Regions from separate parts of the Homo sapiens genome. Here region 2 is linked to region 1. A link means that fine-mapping ties the variant in region 1 to the expression of a gene that starts in the linked region. Tissue or cell type: monocytes. Region 1 holds a variant in brackets; the other region holds the start of a gene. All regions are shown on one strand. Distances are between the middles of the regions.

Evidence for each region. PIP is the estimated chance that this variant, and not a neighbour inherited with it, causes the effect.
Region 2: it holds the start of TBRG4, and the variant in region 1 is fine-mapped to the expression of TBRG4 in monocytes (CEDAR, PIP 0.95).

What each region holds. Positions count from the first base shown.
Region 1 is chr7:45,879,506-45,882,188 of GRCh38, reverse strand. It overlaps a transcript of CCDC201 not described here. Among named protein-coding and RNA genes, the nearest start is that of IGFBP1, 7.6 kb to the left of the region's middle. The variant G/A (reference allele first, on the strand shown) is at 1,413.
Region 2 is chr7:45,110,042-45,112,724 of GRCh38, reverse strand. TBRG4 (transforming growth factor beta regulator 4) reads left to right here and starts at 1,028. Exons shown (of 11, transcript NM_004749.4): 1 at 1,028-1,082. RefSeq lists enhancers at 501-1,256, 620-1,329.

The DNA.
Region 1 (2,683 bases):
GAAAATTGGGCAATCCATGCTCTGAAAAACAATACAAGAGTCAAGGGCAAAGTCAAACTTTCAAAGGGAAGAAATGCTGCAATCCAGGGACACCTCAGAAAGGAAGTTGTTTTTAACACGGGGAAAAAAAACAAAGTGATGTTTTGCTTATGTTCCATGATCAACACAGGGGATGATGTAAATCTGTGCAAAGGCCCGACGTGCTGCCCTTATCTCCCAAGCTGATGAAGGACACTGCTTGGCAAACTGATGGGAAAGTTTGAAAAAATAGCTCTCGCCCACACTCCCCACTAATCAAAGTGGAAAAGTCACCTAGCTCTTGTCACGTCAACAAAACCCAGTTTCTAAACACAGGAGGAGCACAGATGTGTCCAGGCCAAAGCCCAAGGGACCCTGTCAGAAGACCAGGGTCTGAATCTCAGTGTTGGCGATGGAAGCGAGGCCATCCCGAAGCATTTGCATTCAGGGTGCAGTGGGTTGGGTGAAAGAGGGCAGGTATCAAGTGCCAAACATAGGGCAGGTGCTCTTCGTCTTCATTCTGTTATGCTCTCCCCGCATCAAGGCTGCTCAGGTGACAGACCCCTCCTAATTTCTCACCTCTGGTAAAGGGGGGTGGGTTAGACCACGGTCACTCACTAATTGGCATTTCTACCTAGATGAGTAGAAAGGCCCATCCCCAGGCCCTACACCAACCCCAGACTCCGGCCTCTGGGGGCGCATCCCACACTCTGTTACTAGGCAAGCCGCCTAGGAGAATCTGTTGCATGCTCAAGTCTGAGGCCATGGGTTCACAAAGCACTTCTGGGCCCGCACTTGCACAAAACCACTCCATAAGAAGTGAGAGATTAGGGTAATGGACACATTTGAGGGAAGAAACAAAGAGGCAGAGCTATCATTGCTGCAGCTGGGTGGTGAGAGGGCCTGGGTGGTGGAGGGAAATGAGGACGAGCCACCAGGACACCAGAGCTCCCTGTTGCTCACTCCCAGGAGACACATGCATCTCATTCCCCCAAGAATCTTCGCCACCCATATAAAAACTAAGATGATTTGGTAGAAGATGACACTTACCCGGACCATGCATGGGCTTCAGGAAAGTCACGACTGTACTACGTTAGATGTGGTGTTGTTTGATTAACCCTGAATTCACTAGATGGTGGGAAGTGTCCATCACTTTGGTGAGGTGAAAATTCCCATACCAGTTTGGCCCCGTGAACTCATGCCATGACCCCCATGGGGATTCTGTCAGCAAGAAACCTCAATGTGCTTGTGAGGCCATCAGTCCAACACAAACACCAGGGCTGCCACTCACCCAGCCCATAATAGGTCACCCCACAGGGGCAGCAGGACCTCTCCCACCCCAGGATGGAGCTGTCAAATTACTGTCCTCAGGTCCCCAGGCCCTTGCTGCACTC[G/A]CTACACACACTGAGTTGGAGCAAAGCCTGCCAATTACAACACGGCGGCAAGCACTAAGGACAGGTGACCCTGGCTCTGCAGGACTTTGCGACATGGCCAGGCAGCAATGACCCTGAGGTAAAAAGAGTGGGAGTCTCATTCCCCAAGTCACAGTGTGCCCATCACGTGGGGTACCATCACCTGCATATAACGTGCCCATCACATGGGGTGCTGTCACCTGCATACAGTGTGCCCATCACCTGGGGTGCCATCACCAGCATACAGTGTGCCCATCACCTGGCAGGCCATCACCTGCATACAGTGTGCCCATCACCTGGGGTGCCATCACCCGCATATGGTGTGCATATCACACAGGGTGCCATCACTGGAGTTACCGTATGAGGATCATGTGTTTATGAAAACCACAGCATGTTACTTTTGGGGGACTTGGACTGTGGTTTGTTTCCAACTTTTCTTCATTACAAATAATGCTGCAATCATTTTAATCTTTCCTTTCCTTTCCTAATGATATTTTCTCAGGATAAAATTCCAAGTTTAAAATAATAAAATAATAAAAAATAACTCCTCTTCATCTCAATTTAAACAGCCAACAACAATGTATGAGAGTATAAGTTTCACTTCAATATCAGCAGTATTATATGTTGACGTTATCATGTTTGCAGATTCAGTAACTTTATTTTTTTGTGTGTGAAGACAGAGTCTCACTCTGTCACCCGGGCTGGAGTGCAGTGGTGCAATCTCAACTCACTGCAAACTCCATCCCCCAGATTCAAGTGATTCTCCTGCCTCAGCCTCCCGAGTAGCTGGGATTACAGGCACCCACCACCATGCCTGGCTAATTTTTGTATTTTTAATAGAGATGGGGTTTCACCATGTTGGCCAGGCTGGTCTCAAACTCCTGACCTCAAGTGATCTGCCTACCTCAGCCTCCCAAAATGTTGGACTTACAGGCATGAGCCACTGTGCCCAGCCAGATACAGTAATTTTAAAGCAATACTGTGTTAGGTTATTTTGCACTTAGTTGATTATTAATGAAGTTTATAGTTGATATGGTTTGGCTCTGTGTCCCCACCCAAATCTCATGTCAAATTATAATTCCCACTGTTGGAGGAGGGGCCTGGTGCGATGTGATTGGATCATGAGGGCAGTTCCTAATTGTTTAACACCATCCCCCTAATGCTGCTTGTTTGAAAGTGTATAGCACCTCCTCCCCATCACTCTGCCACGTGAAGATGGTGCTTGCTTCTCCTTTGCCTTCTGCCATGATTGT
Region 2 (2,683 bases), 770 kb after region 1:
GGTGTTCAACCTCCCTTTCCAGAATGGCTGGGAACTCAGTTTTTAAGGTTTCTCTGGGGTCTCCTTGGCTAAGAGGAGGTCCGTTCAGTGCTTGGGGGGCTTACAATTTTATTTTTAGTTTACAAACACAAACAAACGTAATTATTTATTTTTATGTTTTTTGTTTTGTTTTTTGCGACAGAGTCTTGCTCTGTCAACCAGGCTGAGTGCAGTGGCAAGATCGCTGCTCACTGCAACCTCCACCTCCCGGATTCAAGCGATTCTCATGCCTCAGCCTCCCTAGTAGCTGGGACTACAGGTGCGCCCTACCACGCCCGGCTAATTTTTTTGTATTTTTAGTAGAGACGGGGTTTCGCCATGTTGGCCAAGCTGGTCTCGAACTCCTGAACTCAAGTGATCCGCCCACCGAGGCCTGGGATTACAGGCGTGAGCCACCGTGCGTAGCCAAGTAATTATTAACTCCACAGAAAATAAAAGGCTGTGCAGGAAGTAAAAATTAATCAAGTCCATATATAGACCTCAGATACATTTCGTTTGGGCTATCCTGCACTTTACTTTGTAATTAAACACCACTATTTAAAAATCAGGAAAATTGCACATAAAAATCCAGCTGCAAGTGGGCGCTCTGGAGTTCCCCAGTCTCCACTCACTCGTCCTCCCAGCCCCCACAGGCCTCAACGTCGCCTATCCCACTCCACCAGCCCAGTCTTCCACCGCCCTAGGAACTCTCCTACGCCTACGCAAGCAGGGAGGGATAGGGTGACAGCACCGACAACAAAGGGTCGTCTCCCGCACTCCGTATGAGGATGGCGTACTGGTCGGGGGGCAACCGAAGCCTTTCTTCCTAGGTTCTTTATCTTTTCTAAGTTTCCCATGACCTATCGCTCCGCTTGAGCCCTCAGCAAAGATGTCACCCGCCGAAAGGTGTGGCCGGAAGCTGGAGGCGTGGCTTCCGGACGTGCGGGGCGAGGCTCGTCTCGTTTCCGCCGGCGCTCCGAGTGACGTAGGGAAGCGCGCCGCGCACCTCATGGTTCCGGGGACAGTTAGGGCGGCGGATGGAGGTCAGCGGTGGTGCTCGCTGCGTAGGTCTTGTGGCACGGGGAGAAGGGGCGGCTGATCGTGGGTTTCGAGTGCACAACACAGGCGTGGCTGGGAAGGTCCTGGGATGCGGTGGAACTGGGGAGCAGGCTGGGACGCGGTGGGATGCCGTGGGCCTGGCCGTCTGCTCGTTCCGTGCTGGCTTGCCAGTGCGCACGCTTCCTCTCTAGCCCGCGCGGCCAGGCCTGGAAGACGCCGCCCCTGTTGACCGTCCATGACCCCAGCGAGCCAGTTTTCGTGACTTAGTGCAAGTTGTTTTCTCTCTGCATTTTAGAACTAAAGTTTTGGATTGCTGTTTGCCTAAACTCAAGTCTGGCTCCTGGGCTTCCGTTTACTCGGCTAAACTGCTCTTAGGGCTCTTAAAAAATTGGAAAGGCGGCCGGGCGCGGTGGCTCACTCCGGTAATCCCAGCACTTTGGGAGGCCGAGACGGGTGGATCACTTGAGGTCATGGTGAAACCCTGTCTCTACTAAAAATACAAAAATTAGCCAGGTGTGGTGGCGCGGGCCTGTAGTCCCAGCTATTTGGGAGGCTGAGGCAGGAGAATCGCTTGAATCCGGGAGGCTGAGGTTGCAGTGACTCGAGATCGCAGCATTGCACTCCAGTCTGGGCGACAGAGCGAGACTCCGTCTCAAAAAAATAAGTCGGAAAGATTTCTACACTGTGCTTAGGCTCAGGAAGTGGTAGATGTTGCGTTTGGGCAAATACTCCGACTCTCTGATCTCTCTCTCTTTTTTTTTTTCTTTAAGTGGAGTTAGACTAAGCTTTTTACAGCTGCTTTAATCCCCTCATATAAAAAGAAAATGTGCTGGCCATATACCAAGTTCCAGGAAGTGGAGAAAGATCAAACGTACATTCTGCTTTGGCAGAAATGAGGCCTAGGTGAACGTTTTATCTTGCCCTTGTCGCATGTCTTCCCTGGATCATGTAATCACCGTAGGGAGCTAGACTAGCTGATAGAATTTTTTTTCTTTTTTTTTTTTTTTGTGACAGAGTCTCGCTCTGCCACCCAGGCTGGAGTGCAGTGGCGCGATCTCGGCTCACTTCAAGCTCTGCCTCACCCTCCCTAGTAGCTGGGACTACAGGTGCCCGCCACCACGCCCGGCTAATTTTTTTGTATTTTTAGTAGAGACGGTGTTTCACCGTGTTAGCCAGGATGGTCTCGATCTCCTGACCTCGTGATCTGCCCGCCTCAGCCTCCCAAAGTACTGGGATTACAGGCGTGAGCCACTGCGCCTGGCCGATAGAATTGTTAAAAGCAACATCAAGGCTATATGTAACACATTGCTGGAGATGGCAACATTGAGTTTGGCCTTGGAAGGATGAGATGTATTTTAAAGGGTCTTATAGGGGGAGGAGGAGACCCAGATAACAAGCCCTGTAAGGTGAAGTGGAAGTGCAAGGCCTGTTTAAAATGGGGCCTTGTGTTGCTGGGAGGCAGAAAAAGCTAAGACTGAGAAAATCATTCTGGGCCATGTTATGAAGTGCTTCTTATTATTGGTTCAGAATTTTTGCTGTTAGAAATTTGGTGGGGGGGTTTTAGTAGGCTAGTGATGTAATCTACCTTGGTTTCGAGAGGCTCACA